Linked DNA regions of Homo sapiens: region 1 is linked to region 2. Evidence: fine-mapped expression QTL. A gene starts in region 2. The other region holds a variant in brackets. All regions are shown on one strand. Distances are from middle to middle.

The links. PIP is the estimated chance that this variant, and not a neighbour inherited with it, causes the effect.
Region 1: its variant is fine-mapped to the expression of ABHD2 in whole blood (INTERVAL, PIP above 0.99). The same link has a PIP of 0.9 or more in neutrophils.

What each region holds. Positions count from the first base shown.
Region 1 is chr15:89,123,156-89,133,790 of GRCh38, forward strand. All of the region lies in intron 3 of ABHD2 (abhydrolase domain containing 2, acylglycerol lipase), which reads left to right. Among named protein-coding and RNA genes, the nearest start is that of ABHD2, 40 kb to the left of the region's middle. The variant A/G (reference allele first, on the strand shown) is at 5,893.
Region 2 is chr15:89,083,680-89,094,314 of GRCh38, forward strand. It overlaps ABHD2 (abhydrolase domain containing 2, acylglycerol lipase), which reads left to right and starts at 4,777. Exons shown (of 11, transcript NM_152924.5): 1 at 4,777-4,884. It overlaps LOC124903573, which reads right to left. Exons shown (of 7, transcript XM_047433432.1): 3 at 8,497-8,562; 4 at 7,456-7,604; 5 at 5,156-5,253; 6 at 4,389-5,007; 7 at 3,882-4,262. The coding sequence ends at 4,048. It overlaps CARMAL (coronary artery disease region linked MFGE8 regulatory lncRNA), which reads left to right. Exons shown (of 4, transcript NR_183882.1): 4 at 1-550. RefSeq lists enhancers at 3,540-4,185, 4,796-4,975, 4,917-5,436.

The DNA.
Region 1 (10,635 bases), 39 kb after region 2:
TTACAGTTGGCTCTCCTATGCCATGGTGCCCTCTCTGGACGTGTCCGCCTGGAAGCTGCTTCAGGTAGTCATAAGAGAATGGGAGGAGCCCTGTGGCCCTTCCATAGACCATAATGGATTCATCTCCGGTGGTTTTCCCTTTTTCTCTTCACTCACCGGAGTACAAGCTCCAAACGGAAATCCAATTGGAATGCTGTTCTCATCATAATGTGTCCAAACCTTTAGTTTCCTGCCAATTAGTCATCCATCAGCCTTGGTTAGTGAGCATTTGAGGATCTACTTCTCTGAGACTCATCGTGGGGAGGCATTTGTAAAAGATCAGTTTTTCAAGCTTTTTAATTACGGAAGTTTTCTAGAGGCACTTTTTAAAAATCAGTTTCCTCACAAATGTGCTTCCTAGTTATTTCTCTTTTTTTTTCTCCTTTCTTTCTTTCTTTCTTTTTTTTTTTTTTTTTTTTTTGAGACAATGTCTCACTCTATTACCCAGGTTGGAGTACAATGGCACAATCATGGCTCATTGTAGCCTCAACCTGCTGGGCTCAAGAGATCCTCCCATCTCAGCCTCACAAGTGTCTGGAACCAAAGGTCCACACCACCATGGCTGGCTAATTTTTAAAAATATATTTGTAAAGACAGGGTCTCACCTGTGTCACCATGTTGTACAAGCTGGTCTTAAACCCCTGGGCTAGCGATCCTCCAGCCTCAGCCTCCCAAAGTGCTGGGGTTATAGGTGTGAGCCACCACACCCAGCCCCTAATTATTTCTAATAAAGCAGAGCAAATCTACTTTTGATTTTTCTCTCAAACAGTACCAACTCCCTCTCTATTGCTGTTGTACATACTTCTTAACAGTAAATATCCATTTTTCTTTTATCTGCCCCAAATAAGAGCTCAGTTCTGTGTGTACGAACACTATATTTGTCATAGATATGCAAAATATGCTATTTTTGTCCTAGTGTACCAAGGAAGTATTAAATAATTAGAAATACACTACAGAAAAGCACTCATTCAAATCTCTCTGATAGTGCAATATATGGAGTTATTTTCTGGATCTAAAGAGCACGGGACTCCATATATGAAACGGCCACTTCTTCCATTTTCTTTTCTGCCTACTTGTTATAAAGCTGTTTCTTTGCAGAGGCAGTACCAATGCAGAGGCTGGGGTTAGGAGCTTTGAGATGGACAGTTGTTGTTTTCTCAATCTTAAAGCATCAGGCAAATGCAACTTCACACACTCTCTTCCAGTCAGATTGCCACCCTAGGCCCCTCCTAGGTAAAAAAAATTCTGGAACCAGCACAGCTTATTTATTTATAGCAAGTTAAAGCTGAAAAGAATTTCATTATCTTTGACTTAAATTTCTCTTAATTCCCTCTTGCTCACAGACATTCCACATCAGATTTAGATCCTTTCCTTCTTGGCTGAACACTAAAGCTTTGTCCTTTTCACAGGATAAATTCCTAATTGCCAAGAGCCTTAATTCCATCGACCTGATTTTATCTGTTTTAAGAGTTGTGCAGACTGGGCATGGGGGCTCATGCCTGTAATGCCAGCACTTTGGGAGGCTGAGGTGGGTGGATCACGAGGTCAAGAGATCAAGACCATCCTGGCTAACATGGTGAAACCCCGTTTCTACTAAAAATACAAAAATTAGGGCTGGGCGCGGTGGCTAACACCTGTAATCCCAGCACTTTGGGAGGCCAAGGCAGGCGGATCACCTGAGGTCAGGAGTTCGAGACCAGCCTGGCCAACATGGTGAAACCCCGTCTCTACTAAAAATACAAAAATTGGCCGGGCATGGTGGCAGGTGCCTGTAATCCCAGCTAATCGGGAGGCTGAGGCAGGAGAATTGCTTGAACCCAGGAGGTGGAGGTTGCAGTGAGCTGAGATCGTGCCATTGCACTCCAGCCTTGGGGACAAGAGTGAGACTTTGTCTCAAAAAAAAAAAAACCAGTTAGTTGGGCATGGTGGCACATGCCTGTAGTCCCAGCTACTGAGGAGGCTGAGGCAGAAGAATCACTTGAACCTGTGAGGCAGAGGTTGCAGTGAGCCGACATTGCGCCACTGCACTCCAGCCTGGCGACAGAGGGAGACTCCATGTCAAAAAAAAAAAAAGAGTTGTGCAAATATTTCTTTGGATATTTCTGGTAAACTATTAACAAGTGATTGGCAGAACTGTAGTGTTCTGATGTGCTTATTTTGTAGCCACCAGACCTTCAGAGCATATTCACCTGCAAACTTATATTGTTAGAAAATTCCTGAAAAATGGAAGACTCAAAATCATCTTGATTGAGGCTAAATATTAAGGGCTAGCCTCAATAAGTCAAACTTTTAGGCAATTTCATCTTAAAATTGCTCATGTTTCTGGTGAAATAGCCCAAACCAAAACTGTCAAAGTAAGAAAGTTAAACTGCTGACTCTGGGACACTCTTTTATTACTTGGCTGACCAAACATTCCAGTTTGCTCAGGACTGGGGCATGGGACTGTCAGTACTAATACCGGGGAATTCCAGGGCAAACAGGGATAAGTTGTTCACCCTCTCAACTACTCACTATCTTGGATGTTGCCTGCCTGCCCTGTCTCTGCTGTAGCAGGTCATTTATGCAAGGGGCCAGCCACATCAGGAAGAAAAGTGCCGCCATCTTTGAGGTCTCCTATATTGAATCAAGATCACCAAGTCTGAGTCTGCTGCAGAATTCATCCACCTTCTCTAACCTAGATACAGATTGTAGCTTCTTCTTAGAGACTTTATGCCTTCTTATAGGAATTGCCGAAGCCTGAAAGATCTAAAAAAAGGTTCGGAATCCAAAATAGTCAAGACTCCCGTGATTTAGTTCAGATGGAAAAAGGCTCATCCTTTATGTGCCGAGCATTCTTTAAAACAACCAATTCTGGTTTCCAAAAATGTATGACCCTTATACCGCCCTATTCATCATACCTGAGTTTACTCTTCAGGGCCCTACTATGTCTCCAAAAAAGGAGTATATGTCTTCCAAAAGGAAGTATATGCTACAACTGATTCCATCACGTGGTATCAAATTCAGTACATGTGGACGGTAAGTGGGCCTTGGCTCCACGTGTAAGGTCCTGTTTTGAGTCACCCCTCTGTGTCACCCCTTCCCAGACTCGATTTCAGAATCCACCTTGGTTCACCATTCATCCTTAACTTTTAGCTTACACCTCATTTGCTTTACAGGACTTACATGGAATCAGATCTACTTTTATACTCCTTCTCAATGTGTGGTTGACTGAAAATTGCTCCACTATCCGGGAGCAGGAAATGGACCTTGTTTTCTAGAAAGTCTCGAATTTCTAAGGATAGCCAACTTTTATCAGCCTCTCATGTTTTACTGACCCTGTGAATTCAGAGGTTGCCAATTTTGATCTCCACTGTTCTTTTTCTCTGCCTGCTTCTCAGCATGCCCTCCTTCACTATGATAGTACACTTTGTACTACAAAATAGTATATACTTTATGGTAAAATAAAATTAAGACAGTAAACTGACTTGGAAAATATATTCTGGAGGGTAAGTAAGAATTTTTCCTAAACTCTCAGTGCCAGTGTCATGCAGTGATGTGGAGAGTGAAGAGCTGACGGCTGTTTACGCTTTTCTTTGTCTGAAGCAACAGTGAGTGAAGTGACTGGCTTTAGAAGCCCAGTCTTCTTCAGCAGCATCAAGAATACTTCCCTGCAAATGGAGTCTGTTTGGGATCCTGAGCTTTAGGGTCAGAATTTATTAGATGGTGTAATGTTTACTTAAGGAAAGCATTTTCCTGAGTTTATAAGGAAATCTACCCCTCCATGAAATTCTAGAAAGCTATAACTAATACAGAAGGCTGTAGTCCTTGAAGACTTGATTTTATGCATGATTGGATGAGATGCCATTGCTGTTTGCTACCCCATGACTGTCAGTAGTCAGACTGAGAAGTGCCCTCTACCAAGTACCAAGGGCCGGGTACTCCTCAGAGGCCCTCCATCTGCCTGAGGTAGCTGCCTGCAGTGTAGTATCACGGTGAGCCATGGAAATGAGTCAGCCATTGTGGCAGCTTGTGAACCACCCTAACTCTACCTGCTGTCAGTTTCTAATCATAGAGTGAGGGCTCTGGGTCAGCGTGGGTGCATGGCATCAAACCAGATGGCTTAACTTCTGAGGTAGCCATTATAAGAGTCTGTAATCCAAAACATTTGGGAACCCTGCCTGGAGATCAGTGGTTGATCCAGAACCATCTGTAGCCTCCCAGGAAGGGAGAGATTTGTGAGAAACAGCAGGTTATATGTTTTTCTACCCTTCCACTGAGTACTAATGCCATTGCCATGACCAACCTGACTTTCCTGTGATATGTAGCACCAAATCCTCCTGCTGGCAAGACCCTGAACTGGTGTTTTCAGCCAGATCACAAAAGCTTGAACAGTAATTTCTTACTGATGTAAAGTGAGAAACTCCATAAATGCTTTTTAAAATGTTGACACCTGCCAAGCCACAGCAGTATGGACTTTTCCTTCCTTGGGATTTGAATAAAGGAAGATTCTTCTCAGTGAATATATATATATACATATATATATATACACATATATATATATATATATGTATATTTTAAAAATTAGTCAATTAGTAATATTTAGTAACCTGCTCTTCCAGTCTGTTCACCGTCTGTACACCATACTCAGCCCCTTCTATATCACACACAATACTTTTTCTCACATTTCCACCTTCTCTGTCTGTCAGAATCCTCAGGCCTTCTCAAATCGTAGCTCTTCTAGTAGCTCCTGACTTTTACCTGTCTCTGTCTCATTGGCTCTTACCTAAGGACAGGGATGGAAACAATAACTTTCCACATATGTATCTCTCGTCACACCTCAAGTGTATTCTGAGAGGCTTAAGGACAGAGACTGTCTTAAAAATTCTCTGTCTTCCCTGTGGTTGCTGCTTCTTGTAGAGTCAGTACACACTAACTTCAGTAGAGTCTTTTGGTAGGAACATGTGATTGACAGAGTGAGTAATTCAGGTAAGTGATAAAGGAATTTAGAGAAAGAGGGGATATTCCTGTGGTGGCTTGACTGATGAGGTCTTCCATAATCCTGAAAGATTAGTTGGCTTTGGATAGATGGGACAATAGGAGAGAAGGCACAGATGTTGGTGTGAGCATGAACCAGTAAAATCAATTATTTAAACAAGCACTCATGGCAGAAAACTGGCTTTGCTGCCCAGGCCAACACTTTTCACCCATCCACCTTTGTCCTTTTGTCCTGTGGGCCTTCCAACCAGTCAGCAGGATAAGAAGGTGGTAGAGGCCTTGCTGCCATTGACACATATCCACGTTGTCAATGCTTTGCCGTCACCACAGCTACTCTATTCTTGTCTCCTAATTCCATGGATCTTCATTTGGCTAGACTTTGATTGTCTCTCTTGTAACTCCCAAAAATGATCTTGGTGCTGCTTGCATCATGTTTGGCCCTGCTACCCAGTCTGCCCTTTGCTCACTGTGCCCTTTGATTTTGTTTGCTAATGGGTTTTGGGCCCCATCACTGGTCTGGTCTCTATAGTTGCTTCGTGGCCAGCTCCTCACCAGGTCCCTATGCCACGATCTGGTGAGCTGAGAGCTGTTTGATTGTAGCAGAGAGCCCTATGGTCTGTGGGGGGGAGGAAGAGGAGATCAGATCACGAGGAGTCTCTAATTCCCAGAGAGGAAGAGTTTGGGCTTGATCCTGTGAGCACTGGTGGTAGGTGGTTGGAAAGGGAAGGATGGGACAAATTCCAGAGGTCTTCTAAGGTGGAATCAGTGGTATTGGTGGGTAATGGAATGGCCTTGGGCATCAGAGGAAAGGGCTGAATCACAGATTATGCTGAGGTTACTGAGCGGTTGAGAGAATAGAATCATTGACAGAAATAGGGA[A/G]GTCTAATGGGGAAGCTGCTTTCTCAAGGAAAGTTGTTTAGCTTGGGGCTTGTCCACAGGATGTGCACAGGGTTATGTGCAATTATGGCATTAGAACTTAGGTGGGAGCTCAAGACCAGATGTGTAGATTCCAGATCAGCTGCAGGTAGGGGAGGTTGTGGGGGTGGGCAGAGAGAGACACTAAAGACTGATGGCTGAGGCAGGCCATGGCTAGGGTGGAAGAGACAGAGACAGGCAGTAAGAAAGGTAGGGAGAGAACCAGCAGCCTCCAGTTCCATGGCAGCCAGAGAAGGAAAACATTGAAGAGGGTGTCAGAAACTCAGGAAGAATGAGGGCTGACCAAAGGCCATCTACCTTGGCCAGAAAGGATCAGGGATTTTTGAGAATGTGTTTTCAGGAGTGAGGTGAATAAACAGGTCAGCACAATAGCAACCAAAGAAGTGAGTCAGGAAACAAACACCAGAGAAGGAAGGAGAAAAAATGGAAACTGGAGGAGAAAGCCAAATTGATTGAAGGTTTTTCCCCTAAGATTGAGAGGGTAAATCCAGGGGCCCAAGTGAGAGGGTGAAGTTAGCGAGCTGTTGCCCCCCGGGAATCCAGAGTCCAGATCAGCAGTGAGACCCACCTGGGCTCAGATGCCAGCCCTGCCCCCTGCTGGCCAGTGGCTTCACCTTGCCGAGCTTCTATTTCCTCATTTGTAAGATGGGTATAATAGCACTTATTTCATAGGTTCAGTATGCTGATTAAAAAAAAAAAAAGAACAGCATGTAAGATGATTTATAGGATACTTGGCATGTGTAAGAGTTCAGTAAATATAGCTGCTATTATTGTAGCTATTTTTATTTTAATATTATCAGCTAGATCAGTTGTACAAATAGCAAAAGACATAATGTACACGAAGGTCACACAAGCACACCTGAATGTCAGTAGGACATCAGTGGGTAAGTGGGTAAAAGATGTGCCTAGATAAATTCCACATAAGGAAATACATGTAATAAGCACCTCATAATGTTAAGACTTGGTAACAATGAAGCCTTAAAACATGAAATATTATTTGATATTCAGAGGAAAATATGGCAATATTGTCAAAATTATATTAAGTTGGACATCGTATTAGTCGAAGTAAACTAGTTTATACTGTGGTAACTAATTACCTCTAAACCTGCACATCTTAAAGCCACAAATGTTTATTTCTCACTCATGCTACGTGTTTATTTCAATGGGCAGGAGGGCTCTGCTGATTGTCATCCCACCAGGACCCCAGCTGATGGAGGTGACATCTCAACACCTGCTTCCGTGGTCATCACCGAGCCAGGAAGAGCAATGTCACACCTCACACACTGGCTCTTACAGGCTGCTACCGGAAATGGCACTTGGTCATTTCCTTTCCCATTTCATTGGTTTGGGTGTCCAAGGGAGATAATACAGTCATGGGTTCTCAGTTTCTGTTTCTGGTTGGTCCGGTAAAGCCCCTTCCTCATCCCTGTTTTTTGCTTATCACTAGAGACAGAAACTACAAACCATGGCTTTAGGCTGCTAAAAGCCTACAAAAGAAACAGAACAATAACAACAAAATAAGGCAGGTTGGACAAGCTTGAGAGCTTGTCCAGCCCATAGCCCACAGACTGCATGTGGCCTGGGACAGCTTTGATTGCAGCCCAACACAAATTCATAAACTTTCTTAAAATATTATGAGATTTTTTGTGTGATTTTCTTTTTCTTTTAGTCCATCAGCTGTCATTAGTGTTAGTGTATTTTATGTGTGGCCCAAGACAATTCTTCCAAAGTGGCCCAGGGAAGCCAAAACATTAGACACCCCTGGTTTAAAGCAAGGCTCGTGCCCATGCCTAACTTGAGAAGCAGCACACCTGTGTCCAGAGAAGAGGAGAATAATCATGGCCACAGGCAGCAGCCTGTGTCACGTGGGCCTCCTTCCTTCTGTCCTTCACTCCATCTCTCCTTCAGTGCCTCTGCTTCACTGCAGGACGTCATCAGCTTTCACCTGGAAGAATGCAATAGCTTTCCCTCCATTCTCTACCCTTTCTAATTGATCTTGCAGGCCACCAAATTATCTTCCTAAAGCACAAATTCATCATGCCATGCCCCTGCTTTAAACCAAGTGGCTCCTCACTGTCTGTAGGGCGAGGTCCAGCATCAGCCCTCGCTCCTTCTTCCCTATATTCCTTGTGTTCTAGACACATCAGATCTCTCCACATTTTCTCATACTGCATGTTCTCTCTTGACTATGTCTTACATTTGCAATGCCTTCTACCTGGAATCCCTTCATACCTCCACACAGCCTCTTTATTTGAGAGAACATAATCACCTTCTTTCTGATGAATGCTTTCTGGACATTTATGGTTCTCTTCTCTGTTGTCTGATAGCATCTGGTGTGGCCTTGGGATCTAGGACCCAGCAGAGAGGTGAAGGGGCAGGATGGGAAGCCCTTCCAGAGGGGAACAGGCACAGGGACTCCTCAGTGGTGTGTCCAAGAAAAAGCAAAACTGGTTTCTGACTATTGAGAGACTAACAGGTCCCCTAGAGTCTGGAGACAAATTGATGATTGGCACATAGAAAACTAAGCTGATGAGGAAATGATAAAAGTGATAACTTGAGGGAAAATAAAAAATTTCACAAAAAAGAATACAACATATGACTTCTTTGTGGCTAATATTTCCATAATTATAATTTTATAAACACTGAAAATTAACCATAAGTGTTGCTGTAACAGTGTTGAAAAGAATGGGCGAGGGGAAAATGTAAGTCTTAGGAGAGACGTAAGAGAGCTAGCACCCTCCAGAGTAGGAAGTTCAATAGGTGCTATTGAAAACTGAAATTGAAGAACCAGCATAAGCAGGATAAGCATGGCATTAAGAAATAAAGGCAAGTGTGGGATGGTAGGGACGACTAAAGGAGTTAAGAATAGTCATCTCTCAGGGGCAGGAGTCAGGAGACAGATGAGGCATCCTGTTGGACTTTTTAAACAGGAGTTGAAAAACATGAAAAAAAAATTCAAGAAAGATGAAAACAAAATATGTAAAGATGTTTTGCTGGCATTGTTTATTATAGTAAAAACTGGGAATAGCAGCATCCAACAATGGAGGCAGCAGCAAGATAATGCAGGGGAAAGAAAGAGCTGTCGGGTCAGACACACACAGAGTTCAAATGCAGGGTCCGCTGTGCAGTAGGCTGTTGGACACTCAGTTTCTGTCTGTAAAGGGGGTCCTAATAATAAGAATCGCTGTAAGGGACAAATTGAATTATGTAACATGCCCATAGAAGGGGCTAAATAAATGTTTGCTCCCTCCCTTAACTATAGCTAATAAACAGGATAGAATTTTATGCAGACGTTCAGAACTTAGCATACTAATTATCTATAAAAATAGAGAATAAGTGAAAAAAGCAGAAGACAATTATATATCTCTATCTGAGCACCATTGTTGTAACTATGTAAATACTCTGCTTTCAGATAGATATAGATGAAAAGGAAACAAAAATGAGAATATTTTTGCAAGGCTTGTGAGGATATGGGTGATTTTTAAGCTTCTAATTTCTTATAGCTATTTCAAATTGATATGAAATTAAGAGGACTCTGAATATGCATTTCATCTTTCATAGTTTTGAAAGCCATTATCTTGTTCATTCCTAATAATAAGCAGTGACACCAGCACTGTCCTTTGCATTTGTCCTTTATATGTAAAGAGAGATGGACTTTGCTTTAGTAGGACTTTCTAGAACATGCTTATCTGCATGGTTTGGTGGCGCTCTCTCACTTTGTGGACAAGATGAAGGTCTGGTGCCTAAGCTGGGGTTTCTCAAGGATGGAGTTGTTGACCATCTGAGAAAATGTTTTCCTGTGCCCACATACCGTAGGGGAGGGCTGCCATTTCAACAGGGCTAACCCACAGCCATCAACAGTGGCTTCTATCAGCTTTTTGTAACTGTTCCTCTGACGGAAAGCTCCAGGGCAGCTGCATCATTTCCTTCCTCTTACATTTGTGCTCAAGGCTCACCCTGGTCAAGAAGCCTGGCTGCATTTCCCAGAGGTTCTTTTATCAGCCAGTAGAACCTATGACCTTGTACCCTCCGTGTTGCCCTTGCTGTCAGTCGGCTCTTGTTTATCCTTCCATCTTTTCTTTGTGAAATATCACTCAGAGATTTGTCCATAGGAGTGCTGAAAGAGCTTCCTCCATTTATGTCTTGACTGCTTCGTATTCCATAAAAAAATAGTTTGTTTAACCAGTCTCCTAGATAGAGGTTTCCTTTATTTGTAATCTTTTGCTTTCACAATGTTGCATTGAATGCTTCTGTATTTTCATCACGATGCGCACCTGTCAGTATAGGATAAACTCCTAGAGGTGGAACTACTGGGTCAAAGGGGATGTGCATGGAAAATTTTGCTAGCTGTTGTCCTCAAGCCTCTCCACACCAGCACTGTGAGCACATTTCCCCAAAACGTTGCCAACATCAGGAGTTCTACTTTTTGATATTTGCCAATCTGGTAGGTGAAAAATGTTTTCTCACTGTGGTTTTAATTAGTCTTTCTTTGATTAAAGAGACTGTGTATCTTTTCATATTTTAGAACTCTTTTTATTTCCTTTTCTGTTCACTGCCTGTTGGTGGCCTCTAACCATTTTTCTGATGGTCATTGGTCTTTTTCCTAATCATTTGAGGGAGCTCTTTATGTACTAGGGAAATTAGCCCTTTGTGATATGAATTGCAAATATTTGTTCTCAGTTTGTC
Region 2 (10,635 bases):
TTTTACTATAGACAACTCACATATAGCTTAAGAAAGCAGCTCAAATCACAGACAAGATTATTTTTCATGATCGTTTTCACTGGCCACCAGAAAGCCTTTTCTAATAACAAAAGGACCACATTTTTGAATTTCATCATAGTTTGTCCTCATGGAACTATTGCATGCTGGGACTTAAAGCCTCTAAACAAACTTCATCTCCATTACCAATAAGAAGCCAGACAGTCGACCTGGTAACAGGACATTCTGAACCTCCTTCCTAGACTGCATGCAGACTGCACCGGCTGTGACAATAAAGCCACAATATTGGATCCCTCAGACTGCACCATGTCATGACTGCAGGAATACTTTATGAACCTCCAGGCTGCAGCTTTTACTATTATTCTCTTAGCCTCATCCTTTCCATTTCCCTCACAGTGATTACACTGATGAGGTCTAGTCTCAAAAACCTTAACTCGGTCCTCAAACCGTTTTTGGTAACCATATTCGAAAGGAAAAGTTTCTCGCACCAGGTGGTGAGATTTTGCTAGTGTAAAAAAAAAAAAAAAAAAAATCCTGCATGTGTTGGAGAGTGTGTATATAGGAACTGTCTGTACTTTCCACTTAATTTTGTTATAAACCTAAAACTATTTATTTATTTAGAGACAGAGTCTCCCTCTGTTGCCCAGGCTGGAGTGCAGTGGTACGATCTTGGTTCACTGCATCCGCCGCCTCCTAGGTTCAAGCGATTCTCCTGCCTCAGCCTCCCAAGTAGCTGGGATTACAGGCACACGTCACCACACCCAGCTAATTTTTGTATTTTTAGTAGAGACGGTGTTTCGCCAATTGACCAGACTGGTCTCAAACTCCTGGCTTCAAGTGATCCGCCCACCTCAGCCTCCCAAAGTGTTGGGATTACAGGCATGAGCCACGGCGCCTGGCCCTAAAACTGCTTTAAAAAATAAAGTCTATCTATATTTTCTAAAAATCCTGAATCCTGTGATCACTACTTCTGAGGGCTAGAACTTAGAAAATGAGTGAGGACCTTAGAGGAAGGTTCTGAAATGGGCTCCTATAATAGCTGTGGCAAACATTTATTAAACATTTTTAGGTATTTGCCAGGTACTGTTTGATGCACTTTGCATCTGTGAACTCATCTGCCACTCAAAGGACCCCATGAGACAAGCACTTCACTGTCCTCTGCGTTTTACAGAAGAAAGTAGGGCACAGAGATGTGCTGTACTCGCCCAAGGTCACAAGGCTAGGAAGGATGGAATCAGGATCCAATCCCCAGCAGTAGAGCTTCCAAATCCCCTTTCTCTGAACCATCCCCCGAGGACACAGAATAACAAAAATGACAAACTGAGTGAATTGCTGATTTTCCTTAAAAGAATAAATAGAACATATTATCTGCTCCAACCACTGCTCCCTGCTGTCTCCCAGAGTACCTTGACTTTCTCAGGTTAGTAAATCCTGCAGAGGCCCCAGTTGAGTTAGAAGCAGTTCTGCTTTAATGAAGTCCTGCAGCTTTGGCCATCCCAGAAGGTGACTGGGGCATACCCTCTCCCTTGTTCTTTTTTATTACAAGGTACTGTCACGGTTTTGAAAATTCACTTTACAGCCACATCCCAACACCTGCTTATCTCAGGCCAAGGCTCACCAAATCCTCAATCCCAACGGGCCACTAAACTTGAAGGCAAAAATAAGTCCATTTTGTCTCCTAAATGGCCTCCCTCAGAAATGATTTATAGAATGAAATAATATGATTAAACAGAATATGGCAAGACTGCAAGCAGAAGGGAGGAAACAGAAACCAGAGACAATTAAGGAAACAGTTCTGTGTGCTGGGAAATGATAATGGATCATTCTTTAAGCCTGCCAGAGCTGCAGAGAAGATGCCCGGATCCTTTTACTCTTCCTCCTCTTCCTGAGCTCAGTCTGTGCCTCTTTTTGAGCCTCTGTGACATAATTGTGTTTTAGAATTCCTGAACTGGAAAGATGTCCTTTTCTGGAACTGGTGGCTGAACCTATGTTCCTGAGATGGGAGAAAAAAGCCATTTACACAATGGCGAGCCCATCTGCAATCTACTCCTAACAGCTGCTTTTTGTGGCTCTGAATCAAGTTGGAGAAATCATCCTGGATCTCAGGAGCCACTTCATGCTTTTCAGGGCCTAACAAGACATCTCACTTTCCCTTAGCAAACACAGGCAGAAGCAAACCTGTATTGGGCTGGGCCTATTTCCGTAACATGCATGCAGCCATGTGTATGGCTACCAAGCAGCACTGTTTAAAGACAAGAACCAGAAAACTGTGGATCAGAACCAAATGTGTACATAGATATGTGTACACACCCCTCCAAAACTAGTGACAAATCTTTTTTGTTTTTTTTTTTCTGAGACAGAGTCTCACTCTGTCATCCAAGCTGGAATGCAGTGGTGCAATCTCACTGCAGCCTCTGCTTCCTGGGTTCAAACGATTATCCTGCCTCAGCCTCCTGAGTAGCTGGGATTACAGGTGTGTGCCACCATGCCCAGCTAATTTTGTATTTTTAGTAGAGATGGGGTTTCACCATGATGGCCAGGCTGGTCTGGAACTGCTGACCTCAGGTGATCCTCCTGCCTTGGCCTCCCAAAGTGCTGGGATTACAGGCTTGAGCCACTGTGCCCAGCCTATTTTTTAAATTATTATTAATTTTTAATTGACAAAATTTGTATATATTTATGATGTACAACATGCTTTACTTATTTATGTTTATCATGTTATTATGTTTATTTGTCAAACAAGGTCTCACTCTGTGGCCCAGGCTGGAGTGCAGTGGTGCGATCACAGCTCACTGCAGCCTCAACTTCCTGGGCTCAAACAACCCTCCTGCCTCAGCCTCCCCACTAGCTGGGACTACAGGCATGCACCACCACATCAGGCTAAATTTTAAATTTTTTGTAGAGACGGGGTCTCACTATGTTGCCCAGGTTGGTCTCAGACTCCTGGGCTCCGCCTCAGCTTCCCAAAATGTTGGATTACAGGCGTGAGCCACTGTACCGGTCCATGTTTTGATACATGTATACATTGTGGGATAGCTACACCAAGCTAGTTAACATATGCATTACCTTATATACTTATCTAGTGATAATCTAAAGCTCTTTTTTGGAAGTCCAAACTGTTTTAACTCAGAGTCAGGACGATGGGGTTCATCACTAAGAGACTTTGCTACTGAAGCCTGGGTTTTTCTTTTCCAAGATGAAAGAGAATACAGAGGAATATATAAACACTGAGATGAAACCTTTTTTTTTCAAGGTAACATGACAACTGAATGAAAAATAGAGCAATGGCAAAGGATTCTTTCTTCTCCTTCACTCTGATGTACCATGGCTGTGAGTTCTTTCAAAGACAGACACAAAGGGTCTGGGGCTACATTCAGGCCTGAGAAGCTATTTCTGTCCACACTCTGTGATGTCTACACCTTCAGAATGGGGAATGGGTTTCAGGGGTCTCTGACAGATAGAGCTCATGCAATGATTTCTGGTCCGGTGCTGATCAGCCTTCAAAGGATGTTATTTGGTTACGCTCCATAAAACTTGAGCCAGCCCACTGTTCCTTGTCACAACCTGAAATATGTTGGGAAAAATTTACATGGTAACAAATGCCACTTCCCTTCTCTGACTAAATCGCTCCTCTCATTTCATCCCCTGCTCCCTCTCTCCGAGCCCTATGGGGCCTTGGTAGGGTGGCCTTGTCTGCCCTACAGGGGTTGCATTTCAAGTCGCTCAAGTGTTCTATTCTTGGTACACGACATGCCATTGCAAAAGCAGTTTCAGGCTCATAGAATTTTAGAAATGGGCCTAGTTTCCCAGCCGGATGAGGTGAGTGGGTGATGGGGGAAGAATCAGCCTTGATTGAATGCCTGTTGAGTGCCAGCCACTGTTGGCATTTATCAGAGTTTATTTAATCTTCTCATCAACTACTATTGTTACCCTCAGTTGCCAAGTGAAGGGAGCATGCGGGAAGGTTAAGTGACTTGCCCAAGCCCACACAACCGGTAGGAGCCCCAATTCCAGGCCCTAGTTCCAAGGCTACATTCTTCCAGGCGGCCTCCAACTGGGTTGGTTAAGGGTTGAAAGGACAGTGGGACAATAACTGAGGCCCGTATTGCCCAGAGCGTCCCCATCCCCCGTCCGGAGCTGGAAGAGGCCATAGACCGCTGCCTCCACATCTTTTCCTCTCCTTCGGGTTCGGTGACTCACGACCCTTCTTCCTCTCTCCCGGGATATGACCTCAAATTTCACCCCTGCGAAATTTGAGTACACGTGAGTCAGTCAGTCGGCCTGGACCCATAAGAGCCCCAGCTGAGCTACCAGCAGCTGAGCTACCAGCCGACCTCATTCCTCTGAGCCCAGTCGACAGCTGACCTTACCCAGCCCTCTAAAGCAGTTTGCGGTCACAATTACCCGTCTCTTCACCCCGCCCCCATCGACATCAAACACGACCCACCTTCTAGCCCTCCTCCCCTTTCCCCGCCCACTCCGGGCTGGCCTTATCCAGTAGCGTCTGGGTCCCTGGACTAAAGCCGTCAAATGTAACCAATTGCTGAGGAGCTCTCCCCTAAGAATCCCGCCTCCACTCTGAGGAACAGCTTCGCTGATCAATGGATCCCCTCCTAGACGCAATGAGCGCGCGGGGCAAGTGGAGAAGCGGCTGAACTGCCCAATGAACAAGCGGTTTCCGTGGTTAGGGGCGTGGCAGAAGCGGTCGTCAGGGGCGTGGCGGCAGTTACTTGGGCGGGGCCGGTAGCGGCGGGAGCTGCACTGGCCAGGGGTTCCGGCTGTATATCCATGAGCGCCGCTGGCAGCCGGGGAGCTGCAGGAACCAGACTGGGGGCGAGCTGAGCACCTGTAGTCAATCACACGCAGGTAAAGCCACGGCCGAGCGAGCTCCGCGGAGCGGGGATCGCACCCCGGACCCGTCGAACCGAATCTCCGAGCCCCGAGGTCCCCGGCGTAGCTCGGCCCATCACGCCGCAGCCTGAGGGGATCCTGGGGGGCCTGTCATCTGGCGCCGTGGGGGTCCCAGGGGCTGGCTTGCCCAGTGGTGGGGACAGCCCAGATCGCGGCGGGGGATACGCCTTCCTGAGGCCCTTTGTCCCCTTCTGCCCGAGGAACCGAGGTTGGGGACAACCCCGACCGCGGCCTTTCCCCCATTGGTGCTCACTCCTGGGTCTTCAGGGGCCTGGGGAGGGGTCTGCCGGTTCAGGCTCGGCGAAGAAGGTCCGGGATCCGCACCTGGAAGGAGAGGGCCGAGGGGCCTGATTACAGCCCGAGATACCCGAGAGGCCTCTGTGTTTCGGGGCTCCAGGGGCTCACGCAGGACCAGTGGGTTTAAGTTCTAGAAAGGCAGCTTTTGACCCACTTGGAAGCACATTTACCGAGTTCGGCCCCGCGACCGGCACTGTTCTAGGCCCTTCGTGAGCTTTTCCCACAGCTAGAGCTGTCCAGCAGCGCAGGAGGCTGCCTGCCAGGCCGGGCAGCTAGCGCCTCGACCTTGGCGATGTCCAAGCAGTGGCCTGATGACAGCCACCTGTGTCGGATGCTTAGGACTCCCAAGGGAGGACTGCATGACCCATCTGTAAGGGCCTTCTCTACCCACAAATGCACTCTAAGTGGCCTTTGATGCCTAGCTTGAGAAGAGTACTTCTGGGGGTCCATTAGGTTCCAAGTGGCTGTTGAATTCACCCATAATGAATTTTGAGGTTTCAGCTCTCAAGAGTGGGTGTTAGCAAAGAGACTGGATTATACAAAAAGATAGAGGTTTATTTAGCCACTGTGAAACTCCTTGTATTTGAACTACCATGGACCGCTCTCTTAATCTTCCCAATCTCTCTTTTTTGGTTGCTGGACCTCCAGTTTGTCAGTTTCACCTGCATTCCAGTAACCAAATCCAAAGGCATGTTCCAAGAACAGGCTCCACAGAGGGACCTGGAGAGACTGCAGGTTTGGCAGAGTCAACAAGATCTGTGCCCAGAGCTTTTCGAAGGCCGTTTCCTTACAGCCACATTAAGCAGAGTCCAAAAGAGAAATCCTTCACTACCCTCTGTCATTTGCCGGAATAGAGAGAACATAATAATCTAAAGGTCAGGAGGCAGAGAAAGAATCTTAACACACCTTGCTGTGTGTTTTAGGATGAATTAATCTTTGAACATCTAGTCAGAAAGCAGTCCATATACAGCTGGTAGTCAGCACGGACTGTGACATTTTAGAGCTGAAGGCACCTTAGATAGAGCTCATCTCTATCTAAGTCTAATTAGGTGGACTCTCATTCAGTCTCCTCAATGCACAGGTGAGGAAACTGAGGCCTGGGGTGGTCACAGGGCTGGTTGGTCATCACAGGCCCATGACTAAGGGTTGATCTCTTGACTGTATTTAGATCTAGCCAGTGCATGACTTATTTCACTCCAAGCTTAGTTTGCCCATTCTCAGTGTTTTAAGTTCTAGGGGAGTCCAGAGAGGTTAGGAGGACAGATTTTGGTGCCTGAGTGCCTGGATTTGAATCCCAGCCCTGCCTCTTACTGGCTGTACAACCTTGGGCAAGCTACTTAACTTCTCTGTGCCTCTGTTTCCTCACCTCTAAAACAGAAATAATAATGATACTTATGTTAGAAGATTGTTTTGAGAAGTGCATGGAGTTACTACATCTGAAGCATTTAGAACAGTACCTGGCACAGGGTAAGCACAATAGATTTGCTAGATATGATATTCTGTTGCCTTTTTGTACATTTTTCTTCATATCCACCACCCAATACTCTATCAAGAGCTAATTTTTCCCCCAGTCCCCTTCCCCCCACCCCCAAATTCATTTAACATATTCCAGATTTCATTTTAACACAGACAGCTGCAAGGGGTTTCCAAGTCACGTTGCATTTTATACCTTACTTATTTTTGTGATTCAGGTAATTTAGTTTCTATGTTAGTTCCCCCTTGCAGTTACATTCTTCTTAGGCTCTGAACCCTTTAAAATTATCGTTAAAAGCAGGCAGTGAGGGGTGGGAATCCCTCGAAATGGTAAAGTCCTGGATGATACCCGTGTCCATGGTGTCCTTCCAAATATGTATTCCCTCTCTTCAGCCCTCCTCCCAAGCGATGAGTGTGATGCAGCTTGATTCTAAATGGATGAACATTTTTAGATTAAGATTTTATGAGCCACTGTATTAAGTGCTTTTCGGAAGTTCAGGGATCATGTGTCAACTGCATTTAAGGAAGTTACTTAGTCATTCGAATAGGGGGAGCACCAGCAGCGCCTGCCTGGCCTGGCAGAAGCAAAAGTGTGTGACTGATCCGTGCTGGCAATCTAGCTGGTTCACTGGTTTATCTGTGTTTTTCCTGTTCTTTTCCAAAGCTTGAAATAAACCAGATGGCAAGTACAAGGGAATGGTCTTTTTCCTCTCATTTTAGTCAGGGTCGTTCACTTTTTTCCCTTTTTACTCTCACCTTCATTTCCTTTATCGCCTGCGTGGGTCTGACAAATAGGCACTCTCAGTGTGCCAGCCAATTCCCTTTTGATGAAAAGATGCCTGCCACTTTCATTTTTTGCAGGAATCCAGTCACCTTTGATTTTCTCTTCTGTTTTTACTTGTTTTCTAGATTGAACCAAAGATTATCACTTCATTAAATGGCACCTTCTCATGCTTTATTTTTCTTGAGTTGATTCTGAATTTCGGTTTTTGTTTAAGCTGTTCTAGAGATCAGCCATTTTAGAATAATAGTTTTCATTTCTTTGCTTGTGTATTAATATGGGCCCCTTTCTCTCTTTCTCACTCTCTTTTCTCAGTATTTTGGTGGATGAGCTTCTCATTTGCTGTTACTCGTTGCTTTAAGCATTTACGCCTTTTCCTGGTAATCTCCGGCAGGACCCATAACCTCTGTAGTGGTTCTCACTGCCCTTGTTCAGAGCTCCTGCCCCGAGCAGGAAATAATTTCTTTGGTCTTATGGGAGACAGGGGTAGAGTCTGTCTTATTTTTTGCCTAAAATCTGGCTCTTTTAAAAGCCCCAGGAGAGAGACATTTCCAATATAATTGAATTTTGTGTGGCAGAATTTCTACCATGACCTACAGCTTACAGTATTCCCATTTTTATTGCATTGTGAGTTTTGAGTACTCCATGACCAGTTTCAGAGTATAGATGATGTGGGGCATGAGTTGCTTTAGCCTTTCTGTTTCATCTTGGGCTAAGCTATCCCCAGGAACAGAGCAATGAGAAGTTCAGGGTGCCTCTTAAATGTGTCTGGTGTCAGGATTTTATAGCAGCTTTTCATGGTTCAGCCTTTTTGGCCAGTGCATGAGTAGGACATTTTTAAGCCCTGTGCTGCTGTTTCTTTGTTGATACCATACAGATGCTACATTATCTCCTTTCAGGATTTTCATATCTGCAGATTGATTTTTGTTGTCTTGTCCAGGGCATCATATTTTTGGATTGAATGTTTTCTGTTTGTAAAATGGTTGGTGTGGACAGACGATAAGCTCCACCATTACCCCTGAAGCTTGTGGACTGGGGCCATTTGGGTGAGGGGCTTGTTACACACCGACTCATTGTCTGATCTTTCACAATAAATAGCAGACAGGTGAAGAGCTTTTTAGAGAAGTGGAACGTTGGTACCCTTGGATTTGCCTGGTTTCTGATTTTCTTTTGTTGTCTTTAAGTGGAGGTTCATTAAGTTCAACAAATTAAGCATCTGGTGTGTGCCAGGAACACAGTTGACAAGATTAACAAATTAGTTTGGTTTGTTGCTTAAAAACTATTTTGTTTTAAAATTGTTTTTAATAGAAATTTTAAAATTTTTTAATTCAAATTTTAGTTTTTAAAAATAGGCAATACATTCACATGATGAAAGAAAATTTTTTAAAGGCACAAAAGGTTAACTAGTAAATACATCTGTGTGTACCCCTGACCCCTGATCCTCAGAGGCAACCAGTATTAGCGATTTCTTCATCCTCCAGAAGTGGTCCCTGAACTTCCAAGGGATTTTATACATCTGTAAGCAAATTCGTTAAACATATTCTGTACACCACCCCTTTTTGCAGAAATGGTAGCACACTGCATACATGCTATTTGGAACCTTGCCTTTTTCACTTAATATTTCTTGGCAGTGTGAAAAGAGCTTCCACGTCATTTTTTATGAAGGCCGTCTATTTTAGATATCTGTTTTCTGTTTCTAAGGATGCTAAAAAACAGTCTTATTTAGGCAGCAGCTTTGCTGGAGATCTTAAAGATCTTGTGAATATTTGGAGGCAAATATTTTTCTTTTCTGTGAGAGCCCGGGGGAGGTGCAGGGGAGCTTCTAAAGGTCAGCTGAGAAGGGAGAGCTGGGGCACTGGAGAGTGAGGAACGCATTGGTCCTTGGGCCCTTCTTCGCCTTGCCGTCTGTGCAGAATGTGCTAGCATTTCCAGGGAAAGTTTGCCGTTTGCTCTCTGTTCTCCAGAGAAGCTTCCTGGCCTCCCCAAGTCACATTTCCAGCATCTTTTTTCATTCTTTTTTTTTTTTTTTTTTTTTTTTGAGACAGAGTCTCACTTTTGTCTCCCAGGCTGGAGTGCAGTGGCGCAATCTTGGCTCGCTGCAACCTCTGCTTCGCGGGTTCAAACGATTTTCCTGCCTCAGCCTCTCAAGTAGCTGGGATTACAGGCACACGCCACCACCCCCAGCTAATTTTGTATTTTTGGTAGAGACAGGGTTTCACTATGCTGGTCTCAAACTCCTGACCTCAGGTGATCCTCTTGCCTCAGCCTCCCAAAGTGCTGGGATTACAGACGTGAGCCACCGTGCCTGGCCTCATTTCCAGCATCTCTGTTGCATTTCATCCCGTCTCCTGCACCACAGCATCACTCCATTTGTCCTGCCTTTGGGCGTCCAAGAGGAAGCCTGCCCTTTGTCACAGCACTTTCTGTTTGGGTAGCTTTAAGTGTCTCACCCCTTCTTTTCTCTCACCCCAGGAAAAACCAGCTCTCACACCTGCTCCTCTGTAAAGCGTCTTCCCCAAGCCCACACGTAATTTTGTTGCTGTCCTTGAAAGTATTTCCCAAGATCTCCAAACCGCTTTAAACTTCCAAGGTCTGAGCCTGACCTGGCCTCGCTAACAAAGGGTTCCACTGATGCCGACTCTAAGAAGAAAGTTTTCAAGGTTCTTCGTATTTGAACTTTCTATGGCTAGGCTTATGTTTAAAATAACCACACTGATTTAAACATGGTCTTATAGTCTTCAGTGGCTCCCAGGTCTTGCCTCTCGGGTTTTTTTTCCTCTTTCCTTTGAATGTGCCTTAACCTTCGTCTTGCTTTTATTTACCTCTGAGTCTGGTTTAGAGCCACCTGGAAATTGAATGGAATCTTTAGTCTATTAGTCTAATCTAGAGTCCTTACCTTCTGGCCTTTGCTCATTGCAGAGCCCCCACATTATTAGTCAGTTGTACCACAGATACTGTGTTACATAAGGTGAGGAGAGGGAGGTGGTGTTATCAGTTCCACTTTTTCCAGGCTAGAGTGCAGTGGCCCGATCTCGGTGCACTGCAACCTCTGCTTCCCGGGTTCAAGCGATTTTCCTGCCTCAGCCTCTCATTTTATCTTGGATAAAAGAGAAGCTTTGAAAGATTGCCTCCCTATGTGTACAGTCACTGTAGGC